2 separate regions of the Homo sapiens genome follow, and region 2 is linked to region 1. The links come from fine-mapping of genetic effects on plasma protein levels. A gene starts in region 1. The other region holds a variant in brackets. All regions are shown on one strand. Distances are from middle to middle. Region 1 holds the start of WFDC2 (WAP four-disulfide core domain 2). Region 2 holds the start of LOC107987282 (a long non-coding RNA gene).

The links. A credible set is the group of variants that fine-mapping cannot tell apart. PIP is the chance, under the fine-mapping model, that this variant and not a neighbour inherited with it causes the effect. The UK Biobank Pharma Proteomics Project read protein levels with antibody pairs (Olink). The fine-mapping took linkage between variants from a reference panel, not from the people measured, so its PIPs are less certain.
Region 2: its variant is the best candidate, but not a certain one, in a credible set for the plasma level of the WFDC2 protein (UK Biobank, PIP 0.72).

The regions. Positions count from the first base shown.
Region 1 is chr20:45,462,435-45,477,934 of GRCh38, forward strand. WFDC2 (WAP four-disulfide core domain 2) reads left to right here and starts at 7,319. Exons shown (of 4, transcript NM_006103.4): 1 at 7,319-7,426; 2 at 7,955-8,098. The coding sequence starts at 7,348. RefSeq lists silencers at 7,984-8,173, 8,194-8,243.
Region 2 is chr20:45,481,126-45,496,625 of GRCh38, forward strand. LOC107987282 (a long non-coding RNA gene) reads left to right here and starts at 6,487. Exons shown (of 4, transcript XR_001754641.3): 1 at 6,487-6,585. It overlaps WFDC2 (WAP four-disulfide core domain 2), which reads left to right. Exons shown (of 4, transcript NM_006103.4): 4 at 246-407. It also overlaps the pseudogene RPL5P2. The variant AGGT/A (reference allele first, on the strand shown) is at 4,868.

The sequences.
Region 1 (15,500 bases):
CCTACAAGCTAAGGAACAGCAAGGATTGCCAGAAAAACTTCCAGAAGCTAAGGGAGGGGCATGGAACAGATTCTTCATCACAACCCTCAGAATGCACCCACCCTGCTGACACTCTAATCTTGGACTTCTGACCCCCCAAACTGTGAGAGAATAAATTTCTGTTGTTTAAGCCACCCAGTTGGTGGTATTTTGTTACAGAAATCCTAGGATTGCTTTGCAAAATATTCTCTCTTAATCTATGTTGAGCTAATGAGGCAAGAAATATCTTCATATTGTAAATTTAAAAACTGAGGCTCAGAGAGGTGAAATAACTGCCCAGGGTCTCAGAACTAGGAAGTGATAGAATTGGGACTCAAATGATCTCTTCTTGACTCCAAATCTCAGGCTCTTACCAGTTCTTATGGGATGGGTAGTAGGGGCAATTTGACAAATAATGAAACTACTTGCTTGTTTCTTCTTCAATTCTGTTACAGATTGATTTCTGTGGGTTAACCTCAGTAATTTACAGCCTGTTCTAATTCTGTATAGTCCCCCCACGGGTCCAACAGGGTTATAAAGAACCTCACCAACAATCTTCGCCTGCTCCAGTTACCTATTGCTGCATGACAGCAAACCATCCTAAAGCTGGTGTAAAATAGAATCATTTCATTAGACTCATGGATTCTATGGGTCAGAATTTTAAACAGGACACAAACATGAGAATGGTTCATTTCTGTTCCATGATGCCTCAGGCCTCAGCCGGGAAGACTCAAACAGCTGGGGGTGACGCGATGACTGGGAGCTGGAATCAGCTGGTGCCTTCTTCATTCACATGGCTAGCACCTGGGCTGGCATGACTGAAAGCCTGGGCTCAGCTGGGATTGCTAACTGTAGCGCCTACATGTGGCCTCTCTATGTGCCTTGGGCTTCCTTACAACAAGGCAGTCTCAGGATAGTCAGGCTTCTTCCATGGCAGCTCAGGGCTCCAAGAGCTAGTGTTCCAGTTAAAAGGGTAGAAATTGCACCATCATTTATGATCTAGCCTTGGAAACCATATAGCATTACATCTACTAGACTCTCTTGGTTGAAGCAATCACAGACCAACTCAGATTCAAGGAATGAGATACAAACCCCACTTCTCTATAGGAAGGTGATATGGTTTAGCTTTGTGTCTCTATCCAAATCTCATCTTGAATTGTAATCCCCAGGTGTTAAGGGAGGAACATGTTGGGAAGTGATTTAATCATGGGGGTGGTTTCCCCCATGCTGTTCTCATGATAGCGAGTGAGTTCTCACGAGATCTGATGTTTTTATAAGTATTTGGAAGTTCTTCCTTCGTTCACTCTTCTCTTTCCTGCTGCCTTGTGAAGAAGGTGTCTGATTCCCCTTCTGTCGTGATTGTAAGTTTCCATGATTGTAAGTTTCTGCTATGATTATAAGTTTCCTCCCCAGCCATGAAGAACCATGAGTCAATTAAACCTATGTCTCCATAAATTATGCAGTCTCAGGTATTTATAGCAGTGTGAGAAGTGACGAATATAGAGGGGTATAAAACAACTGTTGACATGTTTAAAAACTGCTACAACACTCTTGGCCTCAGGGTAGGAAAATCTCATGGGTCTCATGCTTCCCTTTGGGATGAATATGGCTTTCATGGCAGTTGTGGGTACCCATCCTTTCCATCCTAGGAAGGACCAGAAAAATTGGGTTGTCATCCTGCTAGTAGACGAATTAGTAACCATGGAAATGAGTCCAAGCTCATACTACTCACTGCATGACATTCAATAAGTTGAGAGACAAGGTATTGGGGTACTGAAGGCAACTTTATTTCAGAAAGCCAACAAACTGAGAAGATGGTGAACTAATGTCCTAAAGAAACATCCTAAGTTAATAGAATTGTAGGCTCTTTTTATGTTGGGAAGGGGAAGAGAAAGGGGTTTGAGATCAAGAGGTGATCAAGGATCACAGACATCTGGGTGGCAGTGAGGGTCCAAGGGGGTGTGGTGAAACTTCTTTGTCCTTGGTCAGGTCACAATGCTCCTATAAATCATCTTTAACACAATATTGTTACTTGTGTATACACCCTCCTTATCTCCTCTGGGGTTAATTTGGGGAAGGGACTATTAGCAACCTTGCTTTAAACTATAAACTAAATTTCTCCCATAGTTAGCTCAGCCTATGTGTAGAAATGAGCAAAAGCAGTTAACCTAAAATATGTCACCACAGGAGTGGGGTAGGAGTTTGGGGCAAAATAGAGCTAGTTTTTGCTAAGCCTCCTTTTTTACTGCTACAACCTCACAGCTTCTCCCTGTGACTTTATCTTAGGGTGGAAAGTCTAATAAATCAGACCTGTCTCCCGATGTGATGGACTGACCAGTACCCAGTAATTCATGATCTTTTGCCTAATAAAAGGAACCACTACTATCAATGCTTTGCTAAGACAACTGCAAAAATCCTCTTACTACTAGTCCAGTTTCCATAGCTGTCCTCTTACAATGCATTCTTCAGAGCTGCCAGAGGGATTTTCAAAAATTATAAATCAGATGATTTTGTCCCCCAATCTCCCAGCTTTTACTAGCCCATGGCTTCCCATTGCACATAAAAGATATGTTGCTTTTCATAGCCTTCAGGGTCCTTCATGATCTTGTTCTTGCCTAGCTCTTTGATTTCATCTCCCTTGATTTTAACTCTGCTCCAGCTATACTGGTTCTCTTACTCTTCTTGGCATTCATCAGGCTTCTTCCTGCCTTAGGATCTTTGGACTTGCTTTAACCTTTTTTGGTAATGCTCAGCCCCAGATGATGTTGTAGATAGATGTTACACATCATTCAAGTCTCAGCTGTTGATAAAGAAGACTCTTGGGGTGAGCTTGATCAAGGAATGTTTGATGAGACAATGAGCCCAGGGAAGGTTTGTGCAGCATGAAGTAAGTAATGTAGCTGGAAATAAAAGTTGGTATCAGTCAAAAAGGCAGGCTAAGGAGTTCAGCCTTTATCCTGAAGGCAGTGAAGATCCAGTAGAATTTACAGTCAAGGAATTAACTCGACAAGTGCACTGTTCTAGGAAGATTATTTGGTTTAGGGCTGGACCTGAGCCACTTCAAATAGACAAGCTCTGCTTTTCATGGGTTTTTGTGCAGAGACCATGTGTATTTTTTTTTTTTAATGAGGATTTGGTTTGAACATTATTGCATGTATGCCACAAGGATCTTAACTGTGAGTTAGAAGAGAATGAGAGCTGAGAGAAGTCCACTGGATTTGGAAATGAGGAACTTGGTGGTTACACTGGTATAGGGAGTAAGATCTCTTTGGTTACTAGCAACAGAAACCAACTCTGGCTGTTGTAAACAGAGAAGAAATTTATAAAAATGGGATGTAGTCGGCATCCATTCTCCTTTCCTAATAATATCTCTAAGTTAGCCAGAGTTGAATTTTACTGCTTGCACCCAATAGCACTAATTGATTCAGTTTAGCTCTCAGAACTGAAGGAAAGGCTAAAAGAACACAGCTTGGAAAGAATGGTAAAGTCAGAACTGAGTTCTTCCCAGGACACCTCTGAGTTAGCTCCATAAATTTTCAGGTCTTTTATCATTCATTGCTCAAGATTACAGTTCTAGGAACAGTATTTGATTGGCCACTCTGCCTGGGGGTAGGGCAGACACATTAATTGACAGTCTCCCTGGCCCCACCTGTCTTGGTCTGGAGGAAGTTATTTCCTCCAAAGCAAACTCAGGGTGATTTATCAGAAAAAGGACAAATGAATGCTAGGTGACAAAACAAAATAGTCAATATATCCAAAGAGAGAGGTTTCCATGGAATGAAAGGAAGTTTGACTGAGTCCAAAAGTCTAAAAGGAGAGGCCCATTGCATGGTTAAAGGCACCTTTTTTGTTCCTGGAAACTTCTTAAATCTTCACCGTTAACTTGTTTACAGTCATTTTAGAGTGGGCATGTCTACAGCTAATTGACATCATCTACCACTATAAACTTTTCCTTCTTTCCTTTCTGCTTCTTTTCTTCCTCCTCTTCCCTGATATATATTTTTTTACACTCATGAAGTCAAGTCCAAAACTTTGGATGCATCATCTACGTTAACCTCAGATAGATCTGTGTGAATGTGTATAATATTGAAATAACTGGGACAACACAAGTAATTTGGCAAGAGTCTTCCCTCTGATTTACTGGCTGTGTTTCCTCCAGCAAGTCACTTTGCTTAGCTGAATCTCAGTTTCTTAACGTGTAAAATGGGAGTAATAATACTTAATCCATAAGATTGCTAAATACATATAAGCTATCTTTCACCAAACACTTACTATGTGCCCACTCCAGAGGTCACAAATTTAAATGTCCTCCTGGGGTCAGGTGAGCACTGTGAATGGAACTAGTTGCAGAGAGGGAGGATGGTGGTGGTGGGGATTATGGGAAACTGGAGGGAATGCTTCCCTCATAGAAAAAGAGTAGCTGTACTTAGGTTCTGGTTTTCAAAGTATGGTCCCTAGCCCTGCAGCATTGGCATCACCTGGAAACCTGTTAGAAATGCAAATTCTCAGGTTCCAGACCTACTAATCAAAACTCTGGGGATGGGGATCCTGCAATCTGTATTTTAATAAGCCTTCCAAGTGATTCTGATGCATGCTTAGGCTGGGCACTGTGGCTCACACCTGTAATCCCAGCACTTTGAGAGGCCAAGGCGGGCAGATCACCTGAGGTCAGGAGTTCGAGACCAACCTGGCCAACATGGTGAAACCCCGTCCCTACTAAAAATACAAAAATTAGCCGGGTGTAGTGGCGCCTGTAATCGCAGCTACTTGGGAGACTGAGGCAGGAGAATCGCTTGAACCCAGGAGGCAGGGGAAGGGAAGGGAAGGGGAGGAGATGGGAGGGGAGGGGAGGGGAGGGAAGCCTGGGGGACAGAGCAAAACTCAGTCTCAAAAAAACAAAAACAACAAAAAAAATGATTCTGACGCATGCTCAATTTTGAGACCTGCTGCTCTAGCTGATGGTTGTTATATCTAAGATTGCAGGACTGTGTTGCCAGATCTTTTACTTTTTCCAAGAGAAGCTAGAGGTTTATTTTTATATGAAATTCGCTACTTTTAAATCTTGGCAACTAATTTAAAAATTTAAAACATACTGTGTAGTTAATAATGTATGTGCTCTAGCCAGATTTGCAACCTCTGATTTATGCTTTTTCCTTTAACCCTTATAATAATCTTATAAAACCCTTATAATAATCATCCAAGACTGTTAGGATGATACACAGTTTATGCAGGAAGAAGATGCAGGCCCAAAACATGAAGTGTTTCTCTAAGTCACATAGCCAGAAAGTGGCCATGGATGCATTGTCCCTGATTGGGCATGGATGCATTTGGTTCTAAAGCCTCTGCCCTTTTAAATGATGTAAAGAGAATATCTATAACTATACCTAGCACGGAACTTGGCACCACAAAAGCTAAACATCTGATGCCATTGACTGATGAAAATTCCTTCCCCATCCTTCTGCCTGGCCCTGCCACTCTCCCTCAGTCTGTATTCCTGTAAGAGAGAGCCAATCAATAGGGTGCTCATAAGGGCCTGGGAGGAGCAAGGCTGGGCAGTTTCCTGGCCCAGGGAGCTGAATAGGGCCCGGAAGAAAGCTGTTGGCAGCAGTGCCTGGGGCTGAATGTACAGTAGCCAGCTGGGTCCACGGGCTAAAAACTGGCTGCTCACCCCAGTGTTCTCTTTGTGCCCTAGACTGGGTTTCACTAGCCTGTTATGGGCTGTGTTCCCACCTGGCTCCTGCCCTCATTGTTGACTGAGCTCAGAGTAAATAGCCCTGGCCCCTCCCAATAACGTCCCCAGTCCCCAAGTTGAGCATGAGAAGCTGGGGGAGGTGTTCTCAGCATCCATTTTGGGGACAGTGGCCAGATGTACTCACATCACCAAACCCTACTCACCTGTCACTATCATCCCAGTGTTCACTGCCCCAGGGCCCCTCTAGCCTCCAGCAGCAAAGACCTCCTGGGGCTTCTAGAACCTCAGATCATTGGAGCAGGAAGCACTTCTTGTCTAACTCCCTGGGTAACTCTGTTTTGGCACTTAACCCCCTGGATTCTAAAGCTTCATTTATACTTATTGGTCTCCTTCGTCACAGGAGACACTTATCTGTGGAGCACTCATGGCCATGTATCCAGTACCTATCATGGGTCAGGCCTGGAGTCCCTGTGTCAATCAGTGTGGATCTACTCTCAATGCTCCCAGTGAGTACATGGTTGTTCCGTGGCAGGAACGTTGCATTTGTGTTCTCACTGAAGTCCCATATAGGTGTCATTTTCACTGATGATGTGGCAGCTCAGATCCAGGAAAGGATTCATTCCAGGGCCCTCAGGTGGGAAGTGGTGGAGGTGGGAGTCAGACCCCAGACCCTGTCACCCCTTCAAGACCAGTGCTGGAGGGCCCCTTTTGACGACTTTCTCTTCACCAAGCGTCTTGCCCTGCATATGTCACACAGTAGGCACCCAGTGAATATTTACGACGGAATGGAAAAAACAAGGGCCTGGAGGGAGAGACCTGGGTTCAAAACCTTATTTGTACAGCTTTGCAGGGGACCTTGTGGTGGAGGTGCGGTCCTAAATCCCTAAACACTCAGTTCCTTTGTCATATACAGCTGATAACAGTAACTCCCCGGTCAGAGGACCGGCGACAATTCCTTGAGACAAGGAGCACAGAGCCTGGCACAGTCAGCCCTGATCAGGGGCCGGTAGGACAAAGAGAGGGAGACAGAAACACACACCCAAACGGCTTGAGACTGCTAGGTGCTTCACCTTCCTGGGCCTGTTTCTGATGAGGAGGGTTTGTTTATTAATAATAAGTGCTATTTCTGTAGCCCCTACTATGTGCTCTGTATCACTACCCTAGCCCTCCATCAAGAGGGATCTGCCCTCTCATCTGGCTGACCCCAAATCGAACCCTTTAACCCGCATGCTCTACTGCCTCCCTGCGGGCCCTGCCTTATCCTCCTCAACCGCCCACTGGGGACACTCTGGAGAAACCTCGGAGTCTTGGAATAGAAACCCAGGAGCCCTGAGCCTTGGCCCTCAGGCCCCAGGAGGGAGGTCAGGAGGGAGGCGTGGACAAGGGTCCGGCCGTAGCTGGTCCCGTCCTGGAAGCTGCTTAAGTTCCTGGTTCCCACCGGGGCCAAGAGTGATACCTGATCCTGGGGGATTGTGAAATGACCTCATGTGGCAGCCCGCCCGCGGTGCCCGCAAAGCCCTCCACCCTCCCCTTCCCCGCTCGGCTCCACCCCTACCCCACGCCCCCTCCCGCGCGCGCGGTTAAATCCCCGCACCTGAGCATCGGCTCACACCTGCACCCCGCCCGGGCATAGCACCATGCCTGCTTGTCGCCTAGGCCCGCTAGCCGCCGCCCTCCTCCTCAGCCTGCTGCTGTTCGGCTTCACCCTAGTCTCAGGTGAGTGGGGCGGGGAGAGGCCCGGCGCCTAGAGGGGCCGAGCCACGAGCGCCAGGATGGAGCCAGGCGGAGGCGTAGCCTCTGGAGGCTGGGGAAGTGGGAATTCCGGGGGCGGAAGTGGCGGGGACCCTTGGAGCCTAGGGTGTGGGGTCCAATGTGCTGGAGGTGGAGAGACCACTGATGGCTGCAATTTGGGAGGATTCTGTGCTGAACGCGGACACTCCGTGGCTGCAGTGGGCTGGGGGTGGGGGCTGCTCTGCCTCGACCTCGGAAGCTCCGAGACGCTCAGCTGTGCGGCGTCCCCTAGGGCTGAGATCTGAGGGCCCCGACGCCAAGGGTTAGGGAGCTCTCGTACTCCCAGGGGTCAGGGACTCCTGGTCTGGAAGAAGGAGTCTCTGGGGGCTGTAAGGGGACTCCTAGGGCCAGAGACTGAGAATTCCTTGGGGTTAAGGTTTGGAGCAGGAGGTGGGCATCCTCTGGGGCTGGCGCTACGCCCCACCCTCGACTGTCCCGGGCCTCCCCTCCCAGGCACAGGAGCAGAGAAGACTGGCGTGTGCCCCGAGCTCCAGGCTGACCAGAACTGCACGCAAGAGTGCGTCTCGGACAGCGAATGCGCCGACAACCTCAAGTGCTGCAGCGCGGGCTGTGCCACCTTCTGCTCTCTGCCCAATGGTAACCCCACGGCGGCCGAGCGGGAACGGGGCGGGGCCGCGCTGGGCTGGGAGGAGGTGGGAGGGCCCGGGTTCCGGGAACAGGGGCGCCCCCGGACCCGGGGACCCCCGGGAAAGTCAAGGCGGTTGAAACCAGATCCGTCAGTCCTCTCCCTCGCACGGCCCAGGGGTAGACAAAGGCGTCGTTGAAACGCAGCCAAGGGGGGGTCCCCACCCCTAGCTGGGATTCGAGTCTCTGGTGCATGACGGGCTTCCGGGCACGCACAGCCGGGACATTGTTCCCCGCGGCCTGGGGACCCGGGGCCGCAGTTTCCTTCTCGAACCGGCCGAAGCCTGCCCTGCGGGAAAGCCCGGAGCCTGGGGCGCTCACCTCTCCTCTTGGAGTCCCTCCCTGGGGGCCTCCCCCAGCCCTGGGGAAAGACTGGGAGAGCCTGGCCTGGCAAGATTTTCCCCAATTCCTCTGTCCAGGCGGAAAGGAACTTTACAGATTTAGGAAAATGCCCCGCTCATCTTAAAGATGTGTAAGGGAGCATCGGTGAGAAAAAAATGTTCTTGCCCAAGGTCACACCGCCATCCCATGGCTGCTGGAGTCATAGTGAGGGTTCAGCTTTTGCCTTTCAGGCCAACTGGCTGAGTGATTCGAAGAAAGTGAGGAATCCTCCCTGGACACTGTATCGCCCTTCGTCGTCTTTCAGTCAATCTCTTCCACTCTAAGGATTGAGTGAGCGCGAGCTGGGGACTCTCTCAAAGGTGCTTGCTGGAGCTGCAGTCTCCACCAGGCTATCAGAACAGGGGGTGGCTTAAACAGCATGGAATCTCAGCTTTCCGTTCTCCAGAGGAAAATGCTGAGGATTAGAGGCAGGGATAGGACCTGGAGAGAACCAAGGTACTGTAATGATGTTCTTTATCCAGAATACAGCCCCTGTGACTTTTCCTCTCTGTTATTTCCTTGAAGATGCCAGCACAGGCTGGGAAGGTTTGTAATACGGTGACCCAAGACACCGATCAGCAGGGAGGTGGTAAGTGGAGGGGGACTGGCAGCCCACCAAGGGCAGCTTCAAGGTCATGAGTCCCCTCCTCTGGGCCAGGGAGAGGAGGACCAGAAGGAGAGAGGAAGATTTGGAGAGAAAGCAGGCAGCAGCCAGATGAGAGAGGTGGAGGAGCAAAGGAGGGAGTCTTTGCTGTTTGATGGATGAAGAATTTGTTCCCTTATCTCAGATGGACAGACTGAGGCAGGAAGAGGGACAAGGTCAGATGGCCTCCTGAGCCAGGGAGGCAGCCTGGAGGTTTGAATCCTAGTTCTGCCATTTTCTAGTTATGTGATCCTGAGCATGTTGTTTACCTCTCTGAGCCTCTGCTCTAAGATGGGAATAATTCCAAACTCTATAGGATTGGCATGAGGACTAAATGAAATAATGCATCTAAAGTGTCTATTAGTGAGAAGATACTCCATACACAGTGGCTTGTTTTGATCATAAATGGTTCCCTATTTATTTCCAGGGCAGCCCAATATTACAGGTTCCTACTCCTTTCAAGAGAATGAATTTCTTTGTATTAGGAAGTCAAGACTGTTGGCAACTTAACAACATTTTTTTTTGTATTTATGCTTTAAGTTCTGGGGTACACGTGCAGAACGTGCAGGTTTGTTACATAGGTATACATGTGCCATGGTGGTTTGCTTCACCCATCAACCCGTCATCTACATTAGGTGTTTCTCCTAATGCTATGCCTCCCCTAATTCCCAACCCCCCGACAGGCCCTGGTGTGTGATGTTCCCCTCCCTGTGTCCATGTGTTCTCATTGTTCAACTCCTACTTATGAGTGAGAACATGCGGTATTTGGTTTTCTGTTCTTGTGTTAGTTTGCTGAGAATGATGGTTTCCAGCTTCATCCATGTCTCTGCAAAGGACATGAACTCATCATTTGTTATGGCTGCATAGTATTCCATGGTGTAGACGTGCCACATTTCCTTTATCCAGTCCATCACTGATGGGCATTTGGGTTGGTTCCAAGTCTTTGCTATTGTGAACAGTGCTGCAATAAACCTATGTGTGCATGTGTCTTGGGCATTTGCGTTGGTTCCAAGTCTTTGCTATTGTGAACAGTGCTGCAATAAACCTATGTGTGCATGTGTCTTTATTGTAGAATGATTTATAATCCTTTGGGTATATACCCAGTAATGGGATTGCTGGGTCAAATGGTATTTCTTGTTCTAGATCCTTGAGGAATGGCCACACTCTCTTCCACAATGGTTGAACTAATTTACACTCCCACGAACAGTGTAAAAGCATTCCTATTTCTCCACATCCTCTCCAGCATCTGTTGTTTCCTGACTTTTTAAGGATCTCCATTCTAACTGGTGTGAGATGTTATCTCATTGTGGTTTTGATTTGCATTTCTCTAATGACCAGTGATGATGAGCATTTTTCATGTTTGTTGGCTGCATAAATGTCTTCTTTTGAGAAGCATCTGTTCATATCCTTCGCCCACGTTCTAATGGGGTTTTTTTCTCGTAAATTTGTTTGAGTTCTTGTAGATTCTGTATATTAGCCCTTTGTCAGATGGATAGAGTGCAAAAATTTTCTCCCATTCTGTAGGCTGCCTGTTCACTCTGATGATAGTTTCTTTTGCTGTGCAGAAGCTCTGTAGTTTAATTGGATCCCATTTGTCAATTTTGGCTTTTGTTGCCATTGCTTTTGGTGTTTTAGTCATGAAGTCTTTGCCCATGCCTATGTCCTGAATGGTATTGCCTAGGTTTTCTTCTAGGGTTTTTATGGTTTTAGGTCTTACATTTAAGTCTTTAATCCATCTTGAGTTAATTTTTGCATAAGGTGTAAGGAAAGGGGTCCAGTTTCAGTTTTCTGCATATGGCTAGCCAGTTTTCCCAACACCATTTATTAAATAGGGAATCCTTTCCCCATTGCTTGTTTTTGCCATGTTTGTCAAAGATCAGGTGGCTGTAGATGTGTAGTGTTATTTCTGAGGCCTCTGTTCTGTTCTGTTGGTCTATATATCTGTTTTGGTACCAGTACCATGCTGTTTTGGTTACTGTAGCCTTGTAGTATAGCTTGAAGTCAGTTAGCGTGATGCTTCCAGCTTTGTTCTTTTTGCTTAGGATTGTCTTGGCTATGTGGGCTTTTATTTGGTTCCATATGAAATTTAAAGTCGTTTTTTCTAATTCTGTGAAGAAAGTCAGTGATAGCTTGATGGGGATAGCATTGAATCTATAAATTACTTTGGGCAGTATAGCCATTTTCACGATATTGATTCTTCTTATCCATGAGCATGGATTGTTTTTCCATTTGTTTGTATCCTCTCTTATTTCGTTGAGCAGTGGTTTGTAGTTCTCCTTGAAGAGGTCCTTCACCTCCCTTGTAAGTTGTATTCCTAGGTATTTTATTCTCTTTGTAGCAATTGTGAATGGGAATTCACTCATGATTTGGCTCTCTGTCTATTATTGGTGTATAGGAATACTTGTGATTTTTGTACATTGATTTGTATCCTGAGACTTTACTGCAGTTTCTTATCAGCTTAAGGAGATTTTGGGCTGAGATAATGGGGTTTTCTAAATATACAATCATTTCATCTGCAAACAGGGACAATTTGACTTCCTCTTTTCCTAATTGAATACCCTTTATTTCTTTCTCTTGACTGATTGCCCTGGCCAGAATTTCTAATGCTATGTTGAATAGGGGTGGTGAGAGAGAGCATGCTTGTCTTGTGCCGGTTTTCAAAGGGAATGCTTCCAGCTTTTGCCCATTCAGTATGATATTGGCTGTGGGTTTGTCATAAATAGCTCTTGTTACTTTGAGATACCTTCCATCAATACCTAGTTTATTGAGTGTTTTAGCATGAAGGGTGTTGAATTTTATCAAAGGCCTTTTCTGCATCTATTGAGATAATCATGTGGTTTTTGTCATTGATTTTGCTTATGTGATGGATTACGTTTATTGATTTGTGTATGTTGAACCAGCCTTGCATCCCAGGGACAAAGCCAACTTGATCATGGTGGATAAGCTTTTTGATGTGCTGCTGGATTTGGTTTGCCAGCATTTTATTAAGGATTTTCGCACTGATGTTCATCAGGGATATTAACCTGAAATTTTTTTGTTATTGTGTCTCTGCCAGGTTTTAGTATCAGGATGATGCTGGCCTCATAAAATGAATTAGGGAGGAGGCTCTCTTTTTCTATTGTTTGGAATAGTTTCAGAAGGAATGGTACCAGCAACTCCTCTTTGTACCTCTGGTGGAATTCGGCTGTGAATCTGTCTGGTCCCAGACTTTTTTTGGTTGGTAGGCTATTAATTACTGCCTCAATTTTGGAACTTGTTATTGGTCGATTCAGGGATTCGACTTCTTCCTGGTTTAGACTTGGGAGGGTGTATGTGTCCAGGAATTTATCCATTTCTTCTAGGTTTTCTAGTTTATTTGCGTAGAGGTGTTTATAGTATTCTCTGATGGTAGATTGTATTTCTGTGGGATCAGTGGTGATATCCCCTTTGTCATTTTTTATTGTGTCTATTTGATTCTTCTCTCTTTTCTTTATTAGTATGGCTAGCAGTCAGACTATTTTGTTGATGTTTTTCAAAAACCCAGCTTGTGAATTCATTGATTTTTTTTGAAGGGTTTTTCATGTCTCTATCTCCTTTAGTTCTCTCTGATCTTAGTTATTTCTTGTCTTCTGCTAGCTTTTGAATTTGTTTGTTCTTGCTTTTCTAGTTCTTTTAATTGTGATGTTAGGGTGTCAATTTTGGATCTTTCCTGCTTTCCCTTGTGGGCATTTAGTGCTATAAATTTCCTTCTAAGCACTGCTTTAGCTGTGTCTCAGAGATTCTGGTATGTTATGTCTTTGTTCTCATTGGTTTCAAAGAACTTATTTATTTCTGCCTTGATTTTGTTATTTACCTAGTAGTCATTCAGGAGCAGGTTGTTCAGTTTCCATGTAAGGTTATGCGGTCTTGAGTGAGTTTCTTAATCCTGAATTCTAATTTGATGGCACTGTGGTCTGAGAGACTGTTAGGATTTCCGTTCTTTTGCATTTGCTAATTAGTGTTTTACTTCCAATTATGTGGTCAGTTTTAGAATAAGTGTGATGTGGTGCTGAGGAGAATGTATATTCTGTTGATTTGGGGTGGAGAGTTCTGTAGATGTCTATTAGGTCTGCTTGGTCCAGAGCTGAGTTCAAGTCTTGGATATCTTTGTTAATTTTCCGTCTCATTGATCTGTCTAATATTGACAGTGGGGGTTAAAGTTTCCCACTATTATTATGTCGGAGTCTAAGTCTCTTTGTAGGTCTCTAAGAACTTGCTTTATGAATCAGGGTGCTCCTGTATTAGGTGCATATATATTTAGCATAATTAGCTCTTCTTGTTGCATTGATCCCTTTACCATTGTGTAATGCCCTTCTTTGTCTCTTTTGATCTTTGTTGGTTTAAAGTCTGTTTTATCAGAGAATAGAATTGCAACCCCTGATTTTTTTTTGCTTTCCATTTGCTTGGTAAATATTCCTCTATCCCTTTATTTTGAGCCTATGTGTCTTTGCACTTGAGATGGGTCTCCTGAATACAGCACACCAATGGGTCTTGACTCTTTATCCAATTTGCCAGTCTTTGTCTTTTAACTGGGGCATTTAGCCTGTTTACATTTAAGGTTAATATTGTTATGTGTGAGTTTGATCCTGTCATTATGATGCTAGCTGGTTATTTTGTCTATTAGTTGATGCAGTTTCTTCATAGTGTCGATGGTCTTTACAATTTGGTATGTTTTTGCAGTTGCTGATTCCAGTTGTTCCTTTCTATGTTTAGTGCTCCTTTCAGGAGACCTTGTAAGGCAGGCCTGTTGATGAGAAAAATCCCTCAGCATTTGTTTGTCTATAAAGGATTTTATTTCTCCTTCATGTATGAAGCTTACTTTGGCTGGATATGAAATTCTGGGTTGAAAATTCTTTAAGAATATTGAATATTGGCCCCCACTGTCTTCTGGTTTGCAGGGTTTCTGCAGAGAGATCTGCAGTTAGTCTGAAGGGCCTCCCATAGTGGGTAACCCAACCTTTCTCTCTGGGTGCCCTTAACATTTTTTTCTTCATTTCAACCTTGGTGAATCTGATGATTATGTGTCTTGGGGTTATTCTTCTCAAGGAGTATCTTTGAGGTGTTCTCTGTATTTCCTGAATTTGAATGTTGGCCTTTCTTGCTAGGTTGGGGAAGTTCTCCTGTATAATATCCTGAACAGTGTTTTCCAACTTGGTTCCATTCTCCCCATCACTTTCAGGTACATCAATCAAACATAGGTTTGGTCTTTTCACATAGTCCCATATTTTTTGGAGGCTTTGTTCATTCATTCCTTTTCATTATTTTTTCTCTAATCTCATCTTCATTCTTTATTTCATTAAATTGATCTTCAATCTCTGATATCCTTCTTCTGCTTGATCAATTCGGCTATTGATACTTGTATAGGCTTCATGACGTTCTCGTGCTGTGTTTTTCAGCTCCATCAGGTCATTTATGTTCTTCTCTAAACTGGTTAATCTAGTTAGCAATTCCTATAACCTTTTTTCAAGGTTCTTACCTTTCTTGCATTGGGGTTAGAACATGCTCCTTTAGCTTGGAGGAGTTTGTTATTACCCACCTTCTGAAGCCTACTTCTGTCAATTTGTCAAACTCATTCTCCGTCCAGTTTTGTTCCCTTGCTGGCGAGGAATTGTGATCCTTTGGAGAAGAGGTGTTCTGGTTTTTGGAATTTTCAGCCTTTTTGTGCTGGTTTCTCCCCATCTTCGTGGATTTATCTACCTTTGGTCTTTGATGTTGATGATCTTTGGATGGGCCTTCTGAGTGGACGTCCTTTTTGTTGATGTTGATGCTATTCCTTTCTGTTAGTTTTCCTTCTAACAATCAGGCCCCTCAGCTGCAGGTCTGTTGGCGTTTGCTGGAGGTCCACTCCAGACCCTGTTTGCCTGGCTATCACCAGCAGAGGCTGCAGAACAGCAAAGATTGCTGCCTGTTCCTTCCTCTAGAAGCTTTGTCCCAGAGGGGCACCCGCCAGATGCCAGCCAGAGCTCTCCTGTATGAGGTGTCTGTCAGCCCCTGCTGGAAGGTGTCTCCCAGTCAGGAGACACGGAAATCAGGGACTCACTTGAGGAGGCAGTCTGACCCTTAGCAGAGCTCAAATGCTGTGCTGGGAGATCTGCTGCTCTCTTCAGAACCGGCAGGCAGGCTGAAGCCACATCCACAGCTGCCCCTTCCCCCAGGTGCTCTGTCCCAGGGAGATGGGAGTTTTACCTATAAGCCCCTGACTAGGGCTGCTGCCTTTTTTTCAGAGATGCCCTGCCCAGAGAGGAGGAATCTAGAGAGGCAGTCTGGCTACAGCGGCTTTGCCGAGCTGTGTTGGGCTCTGCCCAGTTTGAA
Region 2 (15,500 bases), 19 kb after region 1:
GTGCCTGCTAGGGATGGTCTGACCACAGTATACCCAGGTACCTGCTAGGGATGGTCTGAAGGAGAAGAGTATGTCTAGAACCTGTAGAAAATGCAAGCAGAGCCCCCAGAAGGTGAGGCTTTGCTGTGTGGGTGTGTGGGATGGGGTGGGGTCAAGGAGCTGGTCTAGGATTTAAGCTGCAGGTACTCCTGCCTAGTCTAATGGATATTGTTGTTGATGGTATTGTTATAATTTTCTTCCTCCAGCTCCAGCCACCACCAGGCTGAGCAGTGAGGAGAGAAAGTTTCTGCCTGGCCCTGCATCTGGTTCCAGCCCACCTGCCCTCCCCTTTTTCGGGACTCTGTATTCCCTCTTGGGCTGACCACAGCTTCTCCCTTTCCCAACCAATAAAGTAACCACTTTCAGCACGTTCTGTCTCTGTCTCCCCTGACTTGGGTTGAGGTGGGTGGGCAAGTGTTAAGGGTGTGACCAGATCATCCAGGCATGAAGTCCAGAGAAGGATCATCTGGTAGGTGTTAGCATTCTCCTGGTGGATCCCTGCATCAACCCTATGAATCTGGTCATTATTCCTCCAGGAGGATGGATGAGAAAAACGAGGCTCAGACAGGTGGTGGGGTGCTTCCAAAGTCACTCAGATTCATTGCTGGGGGTGCTGATAAGCAGCAGCATGCACCAGGTGCCAGACACGGTGCTGGGAGGTTTGCTTATGAGATCCTCTGGGTCCTCAAAACAATCCCCAGAGCAGTTAACAACATACCCCTGTCATAGACCTGGACTCCATGAGGTTACTTGCCAGTGGCCACACAGAAAGATGGCAATCCAGGATCCTCTCTTGTTGATACTTTAAGTCAAAGTTTTATTTTATATAAGTAATATAGTCATATGCATCCAAACTCAAAAGATTAAAAAAAGATATACAATGAAAAGTGTCTTTCACCCTTTATCCCCTGTCTCCACCTTCCACCCCAGCCACCAAGTTGTTTTCTATAAAGACAAAAAATGTTCTCAGTTTCTTGGGTTTCTTTTCAGATATGTATCCCCAGCTCTCAATCCTTTCTCTCTCCCTTCTCTATTTCTTCCTCTTTTCCTTTCTATTCCCCCTCTATGCCTCACTCTATTCTCTTTCTCTCTCCTCTATTCCTTCCTCTCCATCCTCCCCCTCTCCATACTCCCTCTCTTAATGCCCCTCTCTCTATGTACTTTCCTCTCTCTCCATAGTGTCCCCTTCTACTTCTCTCCCCACTCCCTATCTCTATCATCTCTTTCCATCTGTTAGAGTAGGTAGTTAGACATGAGCAGGACAGGAGAGGGCTCCCCCCTCACACGCCCAGGAATGTCAGGTGACGATCAGGTGATGGTCAGGTAGTGGTTAAACTGTCTCTCTAAAATGATCACTGGGCCGGGTGCAGTGGCTCACGCCTGTAATCCCAGCACTTTGGGAGGCCGAGGCGGGTGGCTCACCTGAGATCAGGAGTTTGAGACCAGCCTGGCCAACATGGCCAAACCCCATTTCTACTAAAAATACAAAAATTAGCCAGGCATGGTGGCATGCACCTGTAATCCCAGCTACTTGGGAGGCTGAGGCAGGAGAACTGCTTGAACCCGGAAGGTGGAGGTGGAATGAGCTCAGGTCACACGACTGCACTCCAGCCTGGGCAACAGAGAGAGACTGCATCTTATTTTTATTTTTTAAAGTTACAAATAAAAGTTTTCTTGGCTCTGAAAAACAAAGATCAGCAATGTTTTAAGTAAAAAGTCATAGAAGGGTTATTTTAGTCTTCTATTAGTTCAGTCTATGCAGTTAACACCTGTTCTGCTTGATATTCATAAACATTTCAGCTCTCCATGAGAGTCCTGAAAGTTTTTTCCTCGATTCTAATGTCACAATCTCCAAAGGTATCAGAAACCTGCATTCAAGAGCACCTGTCAAAGTCCTATAGCTGATTATAAACCACCTTTTGAAGAGAATCAAAACAAGACAATAATTGTGGGTGACAAAAAGTCTTAGGACAGCCACTACTAAAGCCACATTTGACAATTTTGGTTACTTCTGTGGCATACAATTTTACACAACAATTATAATTATTAATTACATACACTAAGCCATATCAGAATTACAGGACTTTCCAGTAATTTTGGAACATATACTAATAACATATTTATACAAATACAGCCCAAAGAAAGCCAAACACCATTTCATATTTGACAATGCTTCCTGTATGATTTTTATACCAAATAAGCCAAATATGTCATTTTTGGACTTTAGGGGACCTAATAGCTATAAGATTAATTAGGTCAGAAAAAGACATAATTTATAATTTGGTTTTGGAAAGTTTGTTACTATCAAAGGTTTAAAACACTTGATATTATAGAAGAGAATCATAGGCCACCATAAGTCATCTAGCCAAAATAACTCAAAAATTTTAAAAAGGCAAAAAACTTTATTCATGGAAAATCTTGTTCAAGAGAAAGCCAAATTTCACCTTTGCATTAGTGTACTATTAATATCAAACCCAATTCTTAGTAGAACCTTAGACAAATCTCTTCAATTTTAATGTTTGACCCTAAGGTAAGATTCTTATAAATCTTATGACCCTTTACAATTTTTGTTAAAGAGCAGATCAGTGCTCCAAGGAAATCCTTTTGTGCTTTTATTCCAATGTTCAATTTACAGAAAAACTGAATAATGTCACTTTAGCTTTAGCCAATATGTTCACATATAAAATTTCTTTTACCAGATTAATCTTTCACAAACCTATCACAACTTGCTCAAACCTTCAGCTTTATGCTATCTTAGTTAAAACCTTTAACCCTCTAAACTAGTGTAGCCAAAAAACTCCCACATTTCCATGCCTTCTTATAATCTTTTACCAAAAACACATTTCACTTTCCTGACACACCTTGCATGTAAAACGTTTCTGTAGTAGTCTCCATTGCATGTTACACTGTTAACTCTTAGAAACTTTTGTTGTTGCTGAAAAACCTGATAAGTGAGTGATTTTTAATTTTGTAGCAGGTGTGGAGCCTAAGATACGAGACAAAAATGCAGATAAGTTATCCTTCCATCATAGTGAGGGGGCATCCCTAACTCCGCATGTCCACAGGCCTTACCTAGAATCTAATAGCTCAAAGAATAGCTCTTCTTTGACTTTTCAAAAGTCAAAGAAGCAGTTCATGATCTTAAAGCGTTTAGCAAACCTAATTATCTGACCTAATTTAGACCAAATGTCTTTATTTTACCAATAATTTTTTAAACTGTCCTTCCAAAGCTTACTAAAGTCACGTGAACTAAAAGGCATTAGTTTTTATTTTCCTGACAAAATATTTAAGCGCTTATTTTTAAGCCAATTAATCAGAGCTCCTTCATATATAAATGTCACACACACAACACATATAAATATACAGACAGCAGAAGATCCAGTAGTTGTTACGATTTTTCATTTGGCAGTTTTTAAGTTTCTTAATTGGATTACTGGCTTCAGGGTGGGGTCCTTTGAGGAACAGGGTTAGGAAAACATGCCGTTTCTAGGGCTTAATAAGCAGATACAGATGGAAAGCAAAACAGATCCCCCAAAATTCAGGGTCCTATTTTTATACCGGATCCTCAATTCCCAAAAAAGAAATACTACAGAACAAGACAATGAATGATCTTACTGTGAGTTTCATTGCAAGACAACCCAGAGTCAATCAGCCCATTCTGTGATCAGCCTATCCCCCACGGAAGCCTTATCTCAGTGGTGGGGTGGGGGATGGGGATGTTTCCATACCTTCCAGGTGGCTGAGAGCACGCCTCTCTGATCCAAACGTGCAGAGAGCCAAGTATCCCGCCATAACTGCCACTGGCCATGCCCAAAAGTATATTTGCTACCTAGTTATTACACACCAAAGCTCACTCATAATGTGAAGTAATTTCTGATACTCTAAAAAGTAAAAAATGTCAAATAACGCAATGCAAAACAGAACAGAGCCTTAGCTTTTGAGAGAGATCTATCTGCTTCCAATCCCTGGGTCTTAATGAGGAAAACAGATGTTTTCCCTAAAACGGGGTCTGTGGCACCTCCTCTGTTTTTCTCAAGGAGTCCAAGGCTATTAGAAATTATCTTAGGTCCTCTCACATGTGCATCAAGAGTGGCAAGAAGGCAAAACAGAGAAACAATTCAGTTGACTGTGAAAAAAAAAATACCTTTTTTTTCCCCTTGTCTTGTTTTCCCCTGGTAAAAAAAAATACTTTTTTCTTCATAAGATCCAAGAAGAGAAAAAAACATAAAGACCTTTTAAATATACGTATAGCTTGGATATCTGCTTTTAATTAAGCTAACTTTTAACAAAATCTCTTATTACCAGACTCTAGCCGGGACAAACAGCCAATATTTATGGCCTTTAAACTTTACCAAAGGTAATCTCCCAGGTGAAACCAATAAGCCTTAACTAAGGTTGTGACTTAACCACAGGTGTACGAAGTATTTTCAAACAGGTGGTAAGCAGTTTTTACAAGATTTAGAATCTACAAAGGCAGCTTAGAGAAGGGAAAATTCAAAAAGGAAAGCCAGATGTTGTTCAAGGAGGGGCAGAGAATCAACAAATGGCAAAGCTCACGTAGATATCAAACTAGAAAGGACTAATTCCCTGAGCTGGGAATTGAACCCTGAATGTGGGCTGCCATTGTGAAAAGACAAAACCTTAGCTACTAAGCTTCAGCATTGGGCAGTTTCCATTTCTTTTCTTAGAAGGACCCTAGAGGCAGCCAATTTTGAGCTTGCAAAGGCTTTTAACTGCTCAAGACAATTTTTAGGGCTATGACGTGAACCTCAAAATTCCTGTCCTCTGGATGCTGGAGACTAAGAAGGTATACCACCATATGGTTACA[AGGT/A]CAAGCTTCCAAGGGCATAAGACAAGGGGAAAACTTCAGTCAGTTTTTTGTTTGTTTCAGGGACCTGCCGCAAAGTTTGTAACTGACCAGTGTGCCGGACTGGCTTGAACAGCAAGCTTACCGGGTCCTAAGCCCATATTCTATCCTAAGGTACCTCTCTTTATGACAGAAAAATACAGAAAGACAAATTCATAGCACAAATTACACCAGATTTGCTACAGCTTAATACTAGCCACATGAAGGCTTTTGTTTCATTAATTGAAACTTTGCAGAGGAGGCAGTGATTTTTACCATTCCTACAGTCGGCGCGCACAGAGAGAGGCCAGAAGTCTGACTGGTAAGAAATTCTTACCCTTTTGCTGGCATGCCAGGTTTCTGGGTTCCCTTTCCCTGAGTGGCCCTAGCGAATCTACTTGCTGCATCATAGCCCTGGAGGCCAAGCTGCAACACAAAATTAAAAAAAAAAAAATCTCAATTTTGTAAGATGCTGCCCAGTGGGTTGCATGGGGTAACCAAATGAACATTTTCCATTCCAGCCAGAGCAAAATACGTGTGACAAAACATAGACATTAGCCGCTCTGCTTAGCACCCAATATCTAACTGGCAAGGCTCAAACTTGCCCCCGGTTGGGCCTTGTCATCTTTAATCCATTCAAAGTGGGGTGGAGTGACCTCCGACCCGGAATTTCAACATGTGGTCTCTGGGCAAGATGGAAGAGCAGGTAGTCTCAAGTAACAGAAACGATAGGAAAAGAAAAGGAGAGAAAGAGAGAGTAAGAGAGAGAAGCCTGGTCTGAGGCAGGGTGGGGAAGCGGGGAGCTCAGGGAGACCAGAGGAATACCCACCCATTGCAGCAACACTGAATCAAAAGTTCAGGCAGGTACTTGTCAGTCACAAAGGGATCTTTTCCAGCAGTCCCATCAGCTCTCAAGTTGCCCCCTCTGGGGAGAAAAAAGTTCCCCATGTTCCAAGATCCTGTACATGCCTAATCCAGTCACCTGTAGCCATCAGCAAACAGTGCAAGGCAGATTAATCCAGAGAATAGCAGTTAACATTTCATAGTGCCAAATCCATTTCTAACCAAGAGGGATGTTACTGAGGGGGACCTCTGACCCACTGTCTTTCTCTTTTCTTTCTAACCACTGTCTTTCTCTTTTCTTTCTTTTTTTCTCTTTCTCTCTTTCTTCTTTTTGAGATGGAGTTTTTTGCTGTGTTGCCCAGGCTGGAGTTGTGCTTCATCCTAAGGTACCCCTTTTTATGACAGAAAAATACAGAAAGAAAAATTTACAAAATACAGAAAGAGCCCCCTCTGCTGGAGAAGAAATCTCCACCCACTCCACCTCCAGCCCCGACTCCTCAGCCTCTCCCACCCGCTCCGCCGCCACAGCCAGCCCTGCCCTCACCACCCCCGCTGGTGGCCCCCACGTCCAGCTCACCACCGCCACCACCGCTGCCACCTCCACCAGCTATGCCTTCGCCTCCACTGCCACCCCCGCCAGCCGCTGCCCCACCGGCTGCCCCTCCAGGGGAGCCCGCCCCCCATCCCCCGAGGACGCTGAGCTGCCGGACACCTGGCCTCTGCACCTGGCCAAGAAGCAGGAGACGGCGGCCGTGTGTGGAGAGACGGACTAGAAGGCTGACGAGAGTGGCGGAGAGGGCATTTTCCGTGAGCAGGACGAGTTCGTCATCCGCGCAGAGGACATCCTTTCCCTCAAGGTGAGTCCCAGGCTTCTCCAAAAACTGGGCCTGATGGGTTACTTGAGTGTTTGTTGAGCGCCTGCTGGATGAGAGGCTTGTGTTGGGACCTGCGGATCCAGTCATGGCTGAGGGAGAATGGCTGGGCCCACTGGAATTCACAGTCCAATGGGGCCGTTAGAGGTGGCAGTGACCTGCGGGCCTCAGAGGTGTTATTTGCGTATGTGTTTATACACGCATTACCTGTATGTAAGGTAAATACTTTTTTTTTTTTTTGAGACAGAGTCTCGCTCTGTCGCCCAGGCTGGAGTGCAGTGGCGCAGTCTCGGCTCACTGCAACCTCCGCCTCCCGGGTTCACGTCATTCTCCTGCCTCAGCCTCCAGAGTAACTGGGACTACAGGTGCCCACCACCACGCCCGGCTAATTTTTTGTATTTTTAGTAGAGACGGGGTTTCACGGTGTTAGCCAGGATGGTCTTGATCTCCTGACGCACCGCCTTGGCCTCCCAATGTGCTGGGATTATAGGCGTGAGCCACCGCGCCGGCCAGGATTTTTGTTTGTTTGTTTGTTTGTTTGTTTGTGATGGAGTTTCACTCTGTCGCCCAGGCTGGAGTGCAGTGGTGCGATCTCGGCTCACTACAACCTCTGCCTCCCAGGTTCAAGCAATTCTCCTGCCTCAGCCTCCCGAGTAGCTGGGATTACAGGCACATACCACCACACCCGGCTAATTTTGTATTTTTAGTAGAGGTGGGGTTACCATGTTGGCCAGGCTGGTCTCGAACTCCTGACCTCAGGTGATCCACCCGCCTCGGCCTCCCAAAGTGCTGGGATTACAGGCATGAGCCACCGCGCCCAGCCACCCCCTATGGCTTAGAAGGGACTCTAATTTTTCTAAGTTAAGCCTTTAACCCAGGTTTGGTCAAGCGTCGTTGCTTTTTATTAACAGGGGCCTTTAAGCCTCTTTGTCTTAGGAGGGACTCTAACTCTCCTAAGTTGGGCTTCTAACCCAATCCCATCCTTTACCCAGGTAAAACGTACCCCACCACATATCCAGAGTTGGCCAATTGGTGCTGCAGTCTTTTTCTTTGGGTCAGAAGTCTCTTCAGTATAGTCGCTTCATGGTGGCCAGGAAGATGTTACCAGAAAGGAGTCCGGATCCAGACCCCAAGAGAGGGTTCTCAGATCTCACACAAGAAAGAAATCAAAGCAAGTCCGTAGAGTAAAGTGAGAAAGCAAGTTTATTAAGAAAGTAAAGGAAAGGGAAAAAGAGTGGCTACTCCATGGGCAGAGCAGCCCCAAGGGTTGCTGGTTCAAGATTTTTATGGTTATTTCTTGATTATATGCTAAAACGGGTGGATTATTCATGAGTTTTCATGGAGAGGGGAAGAGATTTCCCAGAACTGAGGATCCCTCCCCTTTTTAGTCTATATAGGATAACTTCTGAGTGTTGCCATGGTGTTTGTAAATTGTCATGGCACTGATAGGAGTGTCTTTTAGCATGCTAATGCATTATGATTAGCATAGAATAAGCATTGAGGATGACCAGAGGTCACTTTCATTGCCATCTTGGTTTCAGTGGGTTTCGGCTGGGTTCTTTACCACATCCTGATTTATTAGCAGGGTCTGTGACCTGTATCTTGTGCCAACCTCCTATCTCATCCTGTGACTAAGAATGCCTAACCCTCTGGGAATGTAGCCAAGCAGGTCTCACCCTTATTTTATCCAGCCCCTATTCAAGATGGAGTCACTCTGGTTGGAAGGCCTCTGACACAATGATTTCTTACTTTAATCCTGGGGTGTATGCTTATCCTTTGGGGTGAGGGAGAAGGAGAATAAGGGAGTAATGTCAGTGACTCTGGCCCCCCAGGAACAGCCTTCATGTCCTTCCCTTCTCTACCCACCGTGGAACATGAGAGATCTGGAAAGTTTCAGTGACATTGTCTGGAATATCTGGCCAGCCTGGCTTGGTGTCTATCAGGCTTTATCTTCCTCATCTTCTTGTGGGACCAGGGACCAGGGACCAGACAAGGCCCCAGGGCATCTCCATTCACTCCCAGGGGCACAAACTGATAGAGCCTCCTGGTGGGAGTGGGGATGCTTTGTGCATATGATAGCCCCTTGGCCAGAGATGGCAGTGTAGATTTTCCCAGCTCCCCACTTTCTGATTTCTATTTTTGTCCATGCTCGGGGCTCCCCAACCTTTTAGGCAGAAACAGAGGCATCCAGTGATGGGTTGGGAAGAGTTGCTGGGAACTCGGTGTGTGACTACCACTAGCTCCACTTTCTCCTGTCCTTCTACAGGTTTGCATTCTGAAAGAGTGGCCCAGGCAGGGTGATGTCTAACCCAGGGATGGCAAAGGTGTCCACATGCCATCATTTCTTCCACCAGCACCCATATCACATGATTGCTGCTCCTTTCCATTAGCCCATGTGTGGCCACAGAGCCCTCAGCACAGGGCTCCAGGCAGCTGCTACAGCTGCCCATTGATTGGGGTTGATAGATAGATTTGCTACCCCTGATTTAACTCAAGAAATAAAATGCTAATGGTGAAAAGTCAGACCTGGCAGTTGAGGTTTTACTGAGTAAGAAGACTGCACAGGGGACCCTGAGCAGGGGTCCAAAGGAGATGGGACCTCAGGCCCTCCACCAGAAGCTTAAGAGGGGGTAAAGCTTTTTCAAGGGGTCCCTAGCCCAGAGGCCTCCTGCAGAAGATGAGGTGGAAGTTGCCAGGGATCTCAGTAATGCACAGGAAGAAGCTACCAGGGAAGGAGGACTGAGAGGTGGGATGGGGCAGGTAAGAAAGCAGGGGTGGGTTAGACGAGGCAGAACCTCTGGCTGAGACCCTTCCTTTAATTTTCTTTTTTAAGCTGCTTGGTCAATAAGTTTATTGTTTTTATCTGAATAATCTTATAGAAAATGACTATTTGCCAGACGTGGTGGAACGTGCCTATATTCCTAAGTACTTGGAAGGCCAAGTGGGGGAGGATTGCTTGAGCCCAGGAGTTGGAGGCTACAGTGAGCTATGATTGTGCCACTGCACTCTGACTTGGGTGACAGAGCGAGACTCTGTCTCTGAAAAAAAAAAAGAAAAAGGAAAAAGAAAAGACAAGAAAATAGTTGTTTGGCTTAGCGCTCAGCAGCCTGCTCCTGAGCTCTTAGAAAACTTGCCTTCTGAGCTACTCAGTCTTTCTTCTGGACAGGGGACGTCTTGGGATGGTTCCACCTTTTCTTAACTTCTTCCCCAGGCTTCCTCTCGTGAACTGGATTCTCTTGTTCAGCATCATGAGCTTTCTTACATGTCTCTCCGTCATGACTGGAGTTATGTTGTTCTTTATGTATTGAGAAAATTGTTTCTTGTAAACATCTTCATCTTCTTACATTGGGTAATGCATATAATCTGCGATCTTCTGACCCAGGATGTGCTTCTGCATTGAACTCCCTGCTTTCTGAATTGGAACCAGGGAATTGTTTGGTAACTGTGAGGGATAGAAAACCTCAATCCACACCTCCCTTCAGGGCCCCCCTACCTTTATTTCCGTTGGTAGTTCTGGCAAGTAGCAAGTGAAGGCACCAAGTAACCATCAATGCTTCCCATGTGATACCCATCTCTGCTCACCTCCACTTGACCTTCATAGGTGTTGTCCATGCCAAGACTATTGAGGGGCCTTCGGGTCAGCACAGGCCAGTACAATGTGCTGCATCATAATCTGGCTGGCCAACCTTCATGCTACACTTTAGACATTCATGAACATATGCTGTGCAGACAATCATATTCCCTTCTGTGTGGGCAAAAACCATATGACAAATGATCTCTCTGTTAGTTGCATGAACTATCCTGAATTTTGGTGTGTTCTACTTATTTTCATCCTGGATTACCAAGTGTGTCTGAGCATAGTAATCAGTTTAACCCACTGGTCTTCTAAATGTCATCTGTATCTCTTAAAGTAGGCCTTACTCTTAACAATTTTAACACACTCCATCCTCCGGAACAGAGAGCTGTGTCCATGGCTTGACACAGACCTGCAGCGTGCAAGGGGGGCCAGGCAAGGCGGAAGCCCTACGATCATTCTTTGATCAACTTTTGCAGCCAAGTGAATGCTGTAGGTTGGGGACTCTGAAGATTTGTGATTGGAAAGGGGGAAGGAAAAAGGACAGGGTCCCAGACTGGTCTCTTCCCCCTCTTCCAGGCCTTGATGGGCCACACTTGATATAGGCAGACCACAGCAAAGCTTAGTTTTGGCCAGGAGAACAGCTCCCAGGGCCCAGGAATCCCAGTAAACAGGTGGATCGAGATGGGACAGCCAACCTCAAGGCCCCTCACAGAACCACTCAGCCCAGCTGCCCCTCCAGACGTCAGGGCAGGGCTTCTTCCCGCACTTATTTTCTCCCATTTCCGATGGCAAACTGCTTTGCAGATGCCTCTAAAGGCCATCCCCAGCCCAGGAAGCCATGTATGGTAATACCTACATGGAAACAGACATCTTCTCTGCAGGAAAGTGCAGGTTTGGGGTTGGAGCGATAGTAAGAAGTTACATGAGTGAGCTGGAGCTTAGAAAATAAAGTTCTAAAGACAGACCAGTCAGGGAGGGGAAGGTCCTGCCCCAGAAACAACATCAGCAGAGGCATTCACTCATTCAATATTTATAAAGCACTTACTATGTGTTCTATTCTAGGTGGTGGGGATTTGATAGAAGGAAAAGAGTGTGTGTGTGTGTGTGTGTGTGTGTGTGTGTGCGGTGGAGAGGATAGCCAATAAATAAATGAACTAACACATATATAACATGTTAGGTGGAGGAAAAGTTATGGAGAAATACACAGGTAAGAGGAATAGTGAGTCTGGGGGTGGGGTAGAGATGGGGGTGATTACTTTGCAAAGTAGTCAGGGAAGGTCTTAAAGTATTATTCAAGTAGTGAACTCAGTGAAGGAGGACATGAGCTGCGTGACAACCCATGAGAAGAGGAATTTAGAGAGAAGAGAGTTCCAGAACAAAGGACCTGAGGTCAGAGTGTTCTCAGGGTGTTGGGGATCATCCAGGAGGCTGGCATGGCTGGGGTGAATGAGTGGTCAGGAGCCTGAGGTGAGTTGAAGTCAGAGAGGTAGCATGGGCACAGAGAATAAGGGCCTTGTGGCTCATTGCAAGGATTTTGCCTTTTATTTGGAGCAAATTTGGGAGCCACTGGAGGAGTTTGAGCAGAAGAGTGACATATGACTTCAGTTGGAAAAGGATCCTTCTGGCTGCTGTGTTGTGAATACTACAGGGGAGATGCAGAACCAGGGAGGGCAGGTAGGTCACTGCAACAGGGCAGGCAAAAGCTGGCTTAAAAAAATGCTTCAGGCTGGGCATGGGGGCTCACACCTGTAATCCCAGCACTTTGGGAGGCCAAGGCTGGCAGATCACGAGGTCAGGAGCTCGAGACCAGCCTGGCCAACATGGTGAAACCCCGTCTCTACTAAAATACAAAAAAATTAGCTGGGTGTGGTGGTGCGTGCCTGTAATCCCAGCTACCTGGGAGGCTGAGGCAGGAGAATTGCTTGAACCCGGGAGGCAGAGGTTGCAGTGAGCCAAGATGGCGCCACTGCACTCCAGCCTGGGGGACAGAGCGAGACTCCGTCTCAAAAAACAAACAACAAAAAACTCTTCATCCAGTGGTATGAGGCCCCCCACACTGTCAGGTAGAAATCTTGGCTTCCTTAAACAAACCTTTATTGTTTCCCTTATTGGAAGTATTCCTTCCTTGGTTTCTAAAACACCGCAGAGCCCTGAGACACAACATTTAACATAATCATAGTAATGCTGAATTACAAGCCAACTCAAAATTCAGTGACTTAAGGCAACAATCATTCGCTCTCACTCCCATATCTGTGGGTCTGCTGGGGTTCAGCTGATCTAGGCTGGGCTCAGCTGGTTCTTCTTGAACCAGCAGGTTCCATAAAATGTATTCCCTGGGTCACCTGAGGTCAGGAGTTCCAGACCAGCCTGGCCAACATGGTGAAACCCTGTCTTTACTAAAAATATGAAAAAAATTAGCCAAGAATGGTGGCGGACGCCTGTAATCCCAGTTACTCAGGAGGCTGAGGGAGGAGAATCACTTGAACCCAGGAGGCGGAAATTGCAGTGAGTGGAGATCAAGCCATTGCACTCCAGCCTGGGTGACAAGAGTGAAACTCGGTCTCAGGCTGGGCGCAGTAGCTCACGCCTATAATCTCAGCACTTTGGGAGGCCGAGGCAGGTGGGTCACGAGGTCAGAAGTTCGAGACCAGCCTGGCCAAGATGGTGAAACCCCATCTGTACTAAAAACACAAAAATTAGCCGGGCGCGGTGGTGGGCACCTGTAATCCCAGCTACTCGGGAGGCTGAGGCAGGAGAATTACTTGAACCCAGGAGGTAGAGGTTGCAGTGAGCCGAGATCACGCCACTGCACTCTAGCCTGGGTGACAGAGCAAGACTCTGTCTCAAAAAAAAAAAAAAAAAAAAAAAAAAGCAAAACTTGGTCTCAAAACAAAACAAAAACACATTCTCGTAGGATTGGTAGAAGGATAAGCACAGATTCCAAGTCTGTGCTTTCATCATGTCTGTTAGCATCATTAGCCAAAATAAGTCACATACCAACCCCGAAGTTAAGGGGCAGAGAAATATACTCTGCCTCTAGTGGAAGAAACTGCAGACTCTTTGATTGTGGATATAGGGAGGGTGATGAATTGGAGCCAGTAACTCAATCTACCACAGTTATTATGTTTAATAACAAGATATGCTTTGGTTGCTCTGATCCATTTATTCTGGCTGTGGGAAAAAAAGCACCATATGCTGGTTGCTGATTGAGAGCATGTACAGTATCCTGCGAGATAGAACCTTACCCACTCGAAGTTTTATTTCCAAGTTGTTAATGTCACACCTGCAGGACATCCCACCATTCCACAAGTCTGGCTGCTTCTGGGTGATGGAGAACAGGATAAAACTGGTGAATCCCATGAATAACAGGCCCTTTCTTTCTTTATTTTACTGTAGCACTCTCCCTAGATGTCTGTATGGTTAATCTTCACTCACCTCATTCAAGACTTTGCTTAAGTGTAACCTTCTCAAAAAGGCCCACTATGACCATCCTCATTAAAACTGCAACCTCTGCATCCCCAGTTCCCCTTATTCTACTCACTTTTTCCCCATAGCACCTTGTACTACTATTAGTCTATATAATTAAATTATATATTATGCTTATTGTTTATTTTCTGGGCCCCACCCTGAATATAATATTTATTATCTTTGCCCCACTCAGAGTGTTTGTGATCAAGAAGGGGAAAGGAAAAGATTATTGTTTTGTCCGTTTTGTGTTTGGCATATAGTAGGCACTCAATAAATATATGTTAATTGAATGAATGAATGAGGAGTTCTTTTCTAGAAGCAATATTATATGGGATACAGTCACTGTGATTAAGAAATTCCACAAATCCATGGGTACCAGTACTGGCACAGGCATGGAAGGCAAGGAAATAAAATTCAAATTCAGAATATCTATTCCAGTGAGGGCCAATCACCCCTGCCTCCATGCTTTTGAAGGGGTCTCATGTACCTGTCACCAGATAGCTGGTTCATTTTCTCTGGTTAACGGCACCATATCAGGGCTTAGATTGGCCATCACGCTAGCAGGCTCACTGCTGGAGTACACTGCTGTATACCATAAGTGTCAATAGGCCAATCAGCCTTGCTAAGTGGGAAGTCCATGTCATTGGCCCCAGGCTTAGTCCCTACCACTGTCACATGGTGCTTTGTTCATGAGCCCCCTGAGCAAGCACTAGGGTGGCCAGGGAGACAGGCTGACTGACATCTATGGGGGTGTCATCCTCTCTAAGTGATTACAAGAGCTTCTCTTGTAGCTTTTGTGAAGTGCCTGCGGGACATTGAGGGAGGTCTTGGCCCATCTCCTGGGCTCAGTTCCTCTTTGGCTTTGAAGCCCAGTAAATAGCTAATTCTATATGTTGTCATACTGGGTACTGGCCATTATTACATTGTCACAATGGGACTGTGCAAGTGTGCTGTCTCAGTTTCACATAGCTTCTGCAGGAAGATGGTACTAATTGTGTAGTAAGAAACTGTGTTTATAACCTGGATATTAGATCAAGATGGTGAAGATTGCTTCACATTTTTACAACATATCAGGGTGATATGTTGCAAATGTAAGAAACTTGGTAAACCCCATGTGGGATTTCCTCTATCTAGTAGGCTTGCACCAACCCAAAATATTCCTTGTGAGGAAACTGGAAGGTTACAGAAGCAACACTCATTGAAAATCCCCCCAATCTTATGTCCTCTGTAATGCTTTTCTGAAAATGCATCATCTGATCATATTGCAGTAAATGCAACTGCTATATGATTTAAACGTTCATTTCTCTAAGCCTCAAACCCGGTCCAATTCCATTTATGTAGTGTCCAACCTAGGGCTTGGTTTAAGTGAGGAGAGGTCAAGAGTAAGACAAGATCTCTTCCGGATTTTGAGGTGTCCTAACACCCATTATTTGCAAATGAGCTTAAGTCCTTTCAGGGACCACCCCAGCAGAACATGGTGTCCAGAAGAGTCAGAGGAGCTAATTATTGGATTCAATCACAGACCAGTGCAGGGATCTTGGAGTCCAAAATACACTCTTCTTGGGCAGGGAAGGGGAGAGGCTGCCCGCTACTGTAACTGGCAAAAGGGTTTGGCTGCTTGCCACTTGTAAAAAGAAGCCAGTATAATGAGAATGAAGTGTGATAAAAAGAGAGCAAGATTTTATTATCCATGCTAGATAGAGGAGAAGTGGATGTAATTCTTTCCAAAGATTTCCACTTTATGATTTGTAGAGGAAACACGGGGTCTTTTAAAGACAGGGTTCAGAATGCAGAAGAGGCAGGGGGCTAGGAGGTGTCAGGTGGGGTGAGCCACTCCAATGGGTTGTCTTGAATT